Linked DNA regions of Homo sapiens: region 2 is linked to region 1. A link means that fine-mapping ties the variant in region 1 to the expression of a gene that starts in the linked region. Tissue or cell type: testis. Region 1 holds a variant in brackets; the other region holds the start of a gene. All regions are shown on one strand. Distances are from middle to middle.

The links. PIP is the estimated chance that this variant, and not a neighbour inherited with it, causes the effect.
Region 2: LINC01976 starts here. The variant in region 1 is fine-mapped to the expression of LINC01976 in testis (GTEx, PIP 0.96).

Annotation. Positions count from the first base shown.
Region 1 is chr17:43,583,510-43,588,654 of GRCh38, forward strand. No RefSeq gene overlaps it. Among named protein-coding and RNA genes, the nearest start is that of ETV4, 40 kb to the left of the region's middle. The variant G/C (reference allele first, on the strand shown) is at 2,398.
Region 2 is chr17:43,936,112-43,941,256 of GRCh38, forward strand. LINC01976 (long intergenic non-protein coding RNA 1976) reads left to right here and starts at 2,150. Exons shown (of 2, transcript NR_136406.1): 1 at 2,150-2,286; 2 at 2,450-2,851. It overlaps PPY (pancreatic polypeptide), which reads right to left. Exons shown (of 4, transcript NM_002722.5): 3 at 5,032-5,103; 4 at 4,693-4,841. The coding sequence ends at 4,817. RefSeq lists an enhancer at 1,936-2,436.

The DNA of each region.
Region 1 (5,145 bases):
TCCACACTCACTGCCTCCACTTCCTCACCTCCCATGGATTCCTCAACTCGCTTTCCACCCTTCCATGGAAATGATCTGTGGTTTAATGAGGTGCAGACTTTGGTCAATTTTGAAATTGCTCTTGCTAAAGTCATCAATGGCCAACTTGTCTTCAAACTACGGCTTGGTTCTTGTCCTCATGCTCTTCTCGCTCTGGTGGGTGGAACCCTTTCTCCTCTTTTCGTTTATAAGCTCTCCTGGTCTCCTGGATGTCACTCTTTCCTGCTCTTCCTCCCAGATCTCCCTTGCTGCCCCCTGGTCTCCCTTATTTCTTCCACTTTCCACTGTTGGCTTCTCACCTTCAGCTGTCTTCTCCCTCTAAACTCTCCCCGGGTCAGCTCACCCAGGCTCATATACCCTCTGCTCACACAGCAGTATCTCCAGCCTAAACTTTTCCCTGAGCCCTAAGCATATCATATCTCATCTGATCATTTTATCAGAACAATCTTCCATGCATGTCTGAGTCAACAAATCCCACAGACGAGCACATCTTCTGCTCCCCAACTTGTGCCTCCTCCCGTATTTACCTATTCGTATACGGTTACCACTATGTAAAATTGCCCAAATGAGAAAACTGGAAATCAAGCTAGACTCCTTTCTCATCCTCACCCTGCACATATAGTTACTCACTAAGTTGTATAGCTTCTTACCAGAAATCTCACTAAACTCCATCCCTGCTCTCTGTTTCCACCAGCAGTGCCTTGGTTCAGGCCTTTATCATTCCTCCCTGAATTAATGCAAAATATCCCAACTGACTTTTCTACCTCCCCACACTTCCAGTTTCAATCCCTCCTTTCCATGGTTGCCAGCATTCTCTTTCAAAAAACAGATCAAAACATGCCATCTTCTGTCTATAAGCTTCCAGAGTCTCCCCATTGCCAACAGAATAAAATCCCATTTTTAATCTCAGCATTCAAGGCCTTTCATAGTCTATGCTGAGTTTATTTCACCTGCCACCCCAGCCCATCACCTACTTTTTAATTTTAAAAATTTTAAATTAAAAAATTTTAATTAAAAAAAACTGTTTTGTAGAGACAAAGTCTCATTATGACGCCTAGGCTAGTTTTGAAATCCTGGCCTCAAGAAATCCTCCTACCTCAGCATCTCAAAGTGCTGGGATTACGGGTATGAGCCACCAGGCCTGGACCCATCACCTACTTTTACTGTATGCTTTGCTCAGCCTCCTGGCCTGTAATCACAATGCTTTCTTTCACACTCTGCCTTAGCACATACAGGTTCTTGTCTGAAAAGTGCTAGTCCGTCTGTCTCGCACAATTCTACTTGTGTCCTACTCTGCGAAATCCCTCCCCACTATCAGCTAAATAGTTGTCCTCTCTAAATTTCCACATTCCTTTATCTTCAAAGAGCACACATAGCTTCGTATTGCAGTTATTTTTCTTTATCTATCTCACTGTACTAGGCTGTAAATATTTTGAGGCCAAGGATCATGTCTGACTCAACCAATGCCTGGCAGTGTCTGGCATATATAGTCAGTGGATGCCTATTACTGAAGAAATTAACGAATGAACAAATGAATGAGTGATTTTGGTTTCTGGGCCTACGTCTTTCTTTTTTTTTTTTTTTTTTTTTGAGACGGAGTCTGGCCCTGTCACCCAGGTTGGAGTTCAGTGGCGCAATCTTGGCTCACTGCAAGTTCCGCCTCCTGGGTTCACGCCATTCTCCTGCCTCAACCTCCCAAGTAGCTGGGACTGCAGGTGTCCGCCACTACACCCGGCTAATTTTTTTGTATTTTTAGTAGAGACAGGGTTTCCCCATGTTAGCCAGGATGGTATCGATCTCCTGACTTCATGATCTGCCCACCTCGGCCTCCCAAAGTGCTGGGGTTACAGGCATGAGACACCGCACCTGGCTCCTGGGCCTATCTCTTCCTAGGCTGTGAATATAAACTGTGGTGAGTAGGGCTTGGGAATACATCTCACACCCTGTTTGTCAACATTTCCCCAGGACAATGCCTGGCACAATGCTCTCAGTGCTGATGCATTGGATGTGCAAAAGGTCCTGGGTTCAGGCCAATTTAGATTTCTTTGGCATGAAGAGCAGCAAATTAACATTCCTCTCTCCCTATTACAGATGAGACAGATGAGCTTAGAAATCTTAAACAACTCAGCAGGCTGGGCGCGGTGGCTCACGCCTATAATCCCAGCACTTTGGGAGGCCGAGGCGGGTGGATCACGAGGTCAGGAGATCGAGACCATCCTGGCTAACACGGTGAAACCCCATCTCTACTAAAAAATACAAAACATTAGTCGGGCGTGGTGGTGGGTACCTGTAGTCCCAGCTGCTCGGGAGGCTGAGGCAGGAGAATGGCGTGAACCTAGGAGGCGGAGCTTGCAGTGA[G/C]CCGAGATCGCACCACTGCGCTCCTGCCTAGGCGACAGAGCGAGACTCTGTCTCAAAAAAAAAAAAAAAGAAAGCTTAAATAACTCGTCCTAGGTGTATGGTGGCATCAGATAATCTAAGGGACAGGGGCATTAGGGGTTACTGACCAATGTGGAGCCCTCAGCACACATGGAATGATTGTGATCCCAAGCAGAATTAATGTGGGCACATTGTTCTCTGCAGGCTGTAGGTCTTCTCACTGGGGCTTGTATTCCAGGAAGGGGCCTTCTCTGGCTGGCCCAGATTTAGAGTGAGGGGAGTGAGGAACTCACCACAGGCCCAAAATGTAAGGGGCACCGAGTAATCAAGATAAATAAAATTTAATGCATTTTTTTTTTCTTTCAGAGACAGGGTCTTGTTCTGTGCCTCAGGCTGGAATGCAGTGGCACAGTTATGGCTCACTGCAGCCTGGAACTCCTGGGCTCAAGCAATCCTCCTGCCTCAGCCTCCTGAGTAGCTGGAACTACAGGCATGTGCCACCACGCCCAGCTAATTTATTTATTTTTTGTAGAGACAGGTTCTTGCTATGTTTCCCAGGCTGGTCTTGAACTCCCGGCCTCAAAAAATTTTCCTGCCTAGGCCAGGCATGGTGGCTCACGCCTGTAATCCCAGCACTTTGGGAGGCCGAGGCAGGCCGATCACAAGGTCAGGAGATTAAGACCATCCTGGCTAACATGGTGAAACCCCGTCTCTACTAAAAATACAAAAAATTAGCCAGGTATGGTGGCAGGCACCTGTAGTCCCAGCTACTAGGGAGGCTGAGGTAGGAGAAGGGCGTAAACCCAGGAGGTGGAGCTTGCAGTGAGCCGAGATTGCGCCATTGCACTCCAGCCTGGGCAACAGAGCGAGACTCCATCTCAAAAAAAAACTTTTCCTGACTCAACCTCCCAAAGTGCTGGGATTACAGATGTGAGCCACTGTGCCTGGCCTAATGCAATATTTTTGTTGTCAGTAAACTACAGTCTGTGAGCTGGCTGCCTGTTTTTTAAAACAAGGTTTTATTGGAACCAAGACTGAGATTAGGGTGAGGTGAATGAGACACGATATTGAGGGAAGGGTTGGATCTTGTGTTTATTTGAAATCTTAATATTTTGTTCATCATCAATTTTTACATTAATTTTGATTTTTTTTTATTTTGAGATGGAGTCTCGCACTGTTGCCCAGGCTGGAGTGCAGTGGCGCGATCTTGGCTCATTGCAAGCTCCGCCTCCTGGGTTCACGCCATTCTCCTACCTCAACCTCCCTAGTAGCTGGGACTACAGGCACCCGCCACCATGCCCGGCTAATTTTTTGTACTTTTAGTAGAGACAGGGTTTCACCGTGTTAGCCAGGATGGTCTTGATCTCCTGACCTCATGATCCACCCGCCTTGGCCTCCCAAAGTGCTGGGATTACAGGCGTGAGCCAATGCACCTGGCCAATTTTGATTTTTAAAAATTGCGTTAAAGTATTATCTATCTTGGACCGGGCACAGTGGCTCATACCTGTAATCCCAGCACTTTGGGAGGCTGAGGCAGGTGGATCACCTGAGGTCAGGAGTTGGAGACCAGCCTGGCCAACATGGTAAAATCCCGTCTCTACTAAAAATACAAAAATTAGCCAGGCATGGTGGTGATGCATGCCTGTAGTTCCAGCTACTAGGGAGGCTGAGGTGGGAGAATCGCTTGAGCCTGGGAGGCAGAGGTTGCAGTGAGCCGAGATCATGCCACTGCACTCCAGCCTGGGGAACAGAGTGAGATTCCATCTCAAAAACAACAAAAAAGTATTATTGTATTTGTCACTTTTCACGCTGCTGATAAAGACATACCTGTGACTGGGCAAATTACAAAAGAAAGAGGTTTAATAGAGAATTCACAGTTCCACGTGGCTGGGGAAGCCTCGCAATCATGGAAGAATGCAAGGAGGAGCAAGTCACATCTTACACAGATGACAGCAGGCAAAAAGAGAGAGCTTGTGCAGGCAAACTTCTGCTTTTTTTTTTTTTAAACCATCAGATCTCATGAGACTCATTCAGTATCACACGAACAGTGCAGGAAGATCTACCCCCATAATTCAATCACCTCCCACTGGGTTCCTCCCATGACACGTGGGAATGGTGGGAGTTACAATTCAAGATGAGATTTGGGTGGGGACACAGAGCCAAACCATATCAGTTATCTATCTTGATTTCTGAGTTTTGGGGCACTCCCTTAAGTTGTGTTGGAGGCAAATGCCTTAATTGTCTCTTAGGGCCTTCCCCCATTGTACCGTGGGTTCTAAGATGGGCAGCTGCCAGTAAAGACTGGGCCCTGGGGTTCAGTTCCCTTGGTTCCCTGGCTGACTGCAGCCCCAAGCAGCCTGGACAAAACAGCTGTGGGCAGATACTTCCTGTCCCTCAGGAATTGTTGCATGAGGTTTTGGTTTGGCTTCTTTAGGAAATTAGGTCTCCCTTCATCCACTGGTGTTTCTTTGTTGAACAGCTGTCATCAGCCAGCCACCAAACGTGACAGAATTGGGTTTCTCACACTGTTGCCCAGGCTGGGGTGCAGTGGTGCAAACATGGCTTACTGCACCCTCAATCTCCCAGGCTCAAGTGATCCTCTCATCTCAGCCCCACCAAGTAGTTAGGATTACAGGTGTGCACCACCACACCTGGCTAATTTTTGTACTTTTTGTAGAGAAGGGGTTTCACCATGTTGCCCAGGCTGGCCTCAAACTCCTGAACTCAAGT
Region 2 (5,145 bases), 350 kb after region 1:
CCCATGTGCTTCCACCCCCACCTTCTCTCCGTTCCGGACTTTCAGGTCACGACACAGGGAGGAAAAGAAGGCTATGCTGGGAGTGGAGCCTCAGAGGGAAAGGGGGCAGGGATGCTTAGGAATATAAAGGGCCTCAGGTCCTGGCCAGAGACACTCTGCTGAGCTCCTCTGCACCTGCCCAGCACCATGGTGATGTCTGGTGGCCAAGTCTGGGCCCCCATCAGCTGTATTCTCTAAGAGCTTGGGGATGGGGGCTGGCACCAAGGGCCCCTCCTCAGGCCCACTAAGGGCATGAAGGAGTTAGGCCAGGGCAGCCTCGTCTGCCATTCTGATGGCCAGGATAGCTACTAGGGCTTCTTATTCCTGCTTGGGGTGGTGGGGATGAGGAGAGTTCCTGGTTAAAAGAGGGTTGAGGGGCCTAGGAGCTCTGGGAGTGTGCATCATGTTTACGGGCATCATAGTCTGTGAATCATTGTGTGTTGCAGGCACAAAATTCTCTGTGCATTGGGTGTGTGAATCCTCAGGCTGGCTTTCCTGTGTGTAACTGTTAGTCATTCATTTAATATGTATTACTGAGTATCTGCTAAGTGCCAGGCACCATTCTAGGTGCTTGTGATCCATCAATAGACAAAATAGGCGAAGAGCCCAGCTGTAATTAATGATGCTTACATTGAGGGAGGATATGCCGCTGGGAAGGGACTCAGACAACAAATATAAGTATAGAATATAGTAAGTTAGAAAGTGCAGGCCAGGTGTGGCGGCTCATACCTGTAATCTCAGAACTTTGGGAGGTGAGGCGGGAGGATCTCATGAGGCCAGGAGTTTGAGACCAGCCTGGGCTACATAGCAAGACTCCATCTCTACAAAAAATTAAAATTTAGTTGGGCATGATTGTATGCACCTGTAGACCTAGCTACTTGGGAGGCTGAAGCAAAAGGATGGCCTGAGCCCAGGAGTTTGAGGCTGTAGTGAGCTATGATCCCGACACTACATTCCAGCCTGGAAGGCAAAAGAAGGCCTTGCCTTAAAACAATAAAATAAAATAAAAAGAAAGAAAAGAAAAAATAGGGCAAAAATAGAGCAAGAAAAAGAGCAAGATGAGGGGTTTGGTTGCAATATTATTTTATTTATTTATTTTTTTAAATCGTAGAGACGGGGCTCTCTGTCTTTTGCCCAAGCTAGTCTTGAACTCATGGGCTCAAGCAGTCCTCCCACCTCGGCCTCCCAAAGTGCTGGGATTACAGGCGTGAGCCACCGCGCCCGGCCAGGTTGCAATTATAAATAGGGGTGTCAGGGTAGGATCCATTTAAAAGGTGGATTTTGAGCTAATGCTTACAAGGGGAGACAGAGCTGGCCATGAGGATGTCTGGAGGAAGAGTCTTCCAGGCAGAGAACAGAGTGACCGTCATTTTGCGGGAACAGCAGGGAGAAAGGAGGGGGATAAGCAAGGAGTTTGCGGGAGAGAGGGCAGTGAGGTTAGGGAGCTGACCAATGGCTTTATGCCGTCCTCATGCGTCCACCTTAGGGTGTGTCTCCTCGTTCGTTTTTTTTTTTTTTTTTTTCTTTTTCTTTTTTTTTTTTTTCTTTTTTTGAGACGAAGTCTGGCTCTGTTGGGCAGGGTGGAGTACAGTGGCGCAATCTCGGCTCACTAAAACCTCCACCTCCCGGGTTCCAGCAATTATCCTGCCTCAGCCCCCAGAGTAGCTGGGATTACAGGCGCCCACCACCACGCCCGGCTAATTTTTGTATTTTTAGTAGAGACGGGGTTTCGCCATGTTGGCCAGGCTGATCTTGAACGCCTGACCTCAGGTTATCCGCCCGCCTCGGCTTCCCAAAGTGCTGGGATTACAGGCGTGAGCCACCGCGCCTCGATGCTCTGCCTGCATCACCGGGCATGTCCAGGTGTGTACCATTCCTCCGAGCACCAGGATGTCCCTTAAGGCGTCCGTGCTCTGGTGTGTGTCCCAGAAATAGACACGACCCTCGGTCTGAGCGCCCCTGCACCCCAGCCTGCCCACCGCGCGGAACACCTGCAAGCTCCGGTCCGGGTGCCGCGCTGACCACAGCCCCGGCATCACGTGACCTCCCGCGGCTCTGTCTGCCCCGCCCCCTCCAGACGCCTGCTCTGCGCTGCGCATTCGCTCTGGCCATAGCGGGCCTCGTGTCGCTGCTGATGCAGCCCGAGGGCGCCCTCGGCGAGGAGCTGCAAGTGCCGCAGCCCAGGGCCGCCAGTTGGCTGAACTTAGGCTCCATCAAGAAGTACTTGGGGAAGCTCTTCAACAGCAGGTGGGCCGGCGGAGGGTGTGAGGAAGGGAGGGAGGGAGGGAGGAAAGCGGGGGGTGGGGGGGGCGCGGGGGGGGGACACGGACGCCACCAGGCACCCCCACGCACATCGCGGCCTGAGCTGGGCTCGGGGAGCGGCCTCATGACTGCAAAGACTTGTTCCCAGCCCGAAGAAATCTAAAAACCACAAGAAAACTGCGAACGCCACGGACACCTCCCCATCAAAAGCCACGAAACCCCCACCATGGACCACCACGAACCCCCAGTGGCTGAACACCTCGGAACCCCGACCACCGACCTCCTCCCGGGGCCCCAGGTAGGACAGCCTGGATGCTGGGCACCGAGCCAGGGGCCTCGGGGCTGGGGGCAGCTTGGGTGCTAGCGAGAGGAAGTTCCTGGGGGCGGGCATGCGGGGAGACACAGCACCCCTGTGGGGGGGGCTTCTTTCTCCAGGCTGGGCCTTGGCCTCCAGACGCCTCTCTGCCCACCAACCCCTTTGTATTGAGAGGGGCCTCGACCCCTCCTCATCCCCTCAGTGAAAACAATAAAGACAAATTTTTGTTGCTTCAGTGACTTCTGTGGGCCTGCGGGCAGGGAGGGACCAGTCCATGGAACGGGAAGTGGGACCCTGTAGTTTCTGCTGTGAGAGAAAAAGACCTCAGCTGTTGGGGGTCCTCCCCTGCCTCCCCTGGCAACCCATCCACCTTCCCCCACTCCACCCACACATGGCCTTGTGGGTCTGGCCCTCCACCCCGTGGTAGAGACACAGATACGGGTCCTGGAGAAGACACTTATTGCCCCTGTAGTCCTGCACAGACAGCACCAGTGTGGGGGGCTCTAACCCAGAGGGAGAGCAGAGGTGAGAGAAGAAACCTCAAAGAAGGGGCTTCAGCTAGACACACCCCAACTCCCACCTGGCTCAAGTTTCTACCAAACAGCCCAGACTCCTCTCCCCATTCACCGCGCATCCCCTTAAGCTGCCAGAGAAAATGCTGGGACTTCAGGCTCCCTCTCCCAGACTCAAACCGTTCTTTTGCGAAACCATCTCTCTATCCAGACATCTTTGGATTTAAGAATCAACCTGAGGCTGGGCACAGTGGCTCACACCTGTAATCCCAGCATTTTGGGAGGCCGAGGTGAGCAGATCGCTGGAGCCCAGGAGTTTAAGACCATGCTGGGCAACATAGCAAGACCCTGTCTCTAAAAAATAAAAAAATTTGCTGGGTGTGGTGGCATGTGCCTGTAGTTCCAGCTGTTTGGGAGGCTGAGGCAGGAGGATCGCTTGAGCCCAGGAGGTCAAAGCTATGGTGAGCTGTGATCATGCCACTGTACTCCAGCCTGGGTGACAGAGCAAGATCCTGTCTCCAAAAACAAACAAAAAATCAATCTGAGCCAAGCAGCTGCATCCTCTAGAAGCTCTTTGCCTTTTAGGACCTGTTTCTACTTCCAGGTCATTTGCACACACCAGATGGAGTAGGACTTGAGGGGAAACACAATTGTGTGTCATTTCCATTTCTGTGCAAGGTGCTGAGCCCAGGAAAGTGGACCCCTCATCCTCCAAACCCATAACCCCATCCCTTGAGACCAAGCATGTGGGGGAGGCAGGAGAAGCCTTTCTAGGAACCAGAAACATTCTAGTTCCCTCACTTCTCCCCTTTACACATGCGCGTACACACGCATGCACACGCGCACTGTCCCCACCTATTCAGGGTGCCTGAGAAGGGCCAGGAAAAGATGGGTTCTCTGGGAATCTGGGAAGTCCTCCCTGGGGCAGGATCCAGGTCCTTGTCCTCCCAGGGCTGGAGTGTACAATCTACAGATTCAACTCATGGTGGCTGGAACTCTCAGCTAATCTAGCCTCCTCCCCTTCCACAGCAGCTTGAATACCTCCTGTGCCCAGGACTTCACTACCTCTCAGGGCAGCCCATTCTCTCCAAATTTCTGGACGGCAGCTCAGGCCCCTGGATGCAGCCATGACTGCCATAGCACCAGAATCGTTCTTCCAGGCTGGGCTGTGCCCCTGCCCCCATGCCAAGGGTGCTTTCGTATAAATTTTGGTGCTTCTGCTGCCTAGGCTGCAGTAAGGCACTGGTGAGGGGTGCACTTGGGGAAGGGTTGTCATCAGGCTGTGTCGGGAAGGTCTATGGGTACTGAACTGGGAAGATTCAAGACTGCCACTTCACAGACTTGCTGAAGGACCATCTGCTCAGAGGAGTCCCTGCCTTCCTCTGGCCACCACTTTTCCCTCTGCGAAGGGGAGAGGATGAGTTGAGTGACTCTGATGACCCCCGCCAACGTTCTGGATGATCCCCTTTTCCTCTGCCCTGCCCTGCCCTCCCCTTTCTCTCCCATGCATTTGGCACTTCCTGCTGCCCCCACCAGGGGTCCACAGAGACACAGGACAGGCTGTGGCTTTGACTTGCTTTATTGAGCCTGTGTGGGAGCAGGGAGCAAGCTTTGGCCAGAGCCAAGGGTGCAGAGGGGAGAGCTGGGCTGGCGCTGCTCATGGAGTCGTAGGAGACAGAAGGTGGCATTATAAGTCCAGCGGGCTGAGCTCCCTGTGAGGACAGGGCAGAACATGGCAGTGTAGGGGGTAGGCCTCGTGCCCTCAGGAGGCCTCAGGCTGGCCCTGGGCTCCTGTTCTCCCTCTTCCACCCCCCACTACACCTTTCCAAGCCCTGATTCAGTCCCACCACCCCCATTTCAGCTCCAGGGAGCTGGACAGACAGGGCAGGGAGTCAAACTCACCTGGGGACAGCAGCATGCGGGGACCCCCACTCCGAGAAGGCCAGCGTGTCCTCTTTGTGTCTTTTCCCATACCTGGGAGGGAAGAGGCAGCAGGGGCAAGCACTGTGCCCAGGT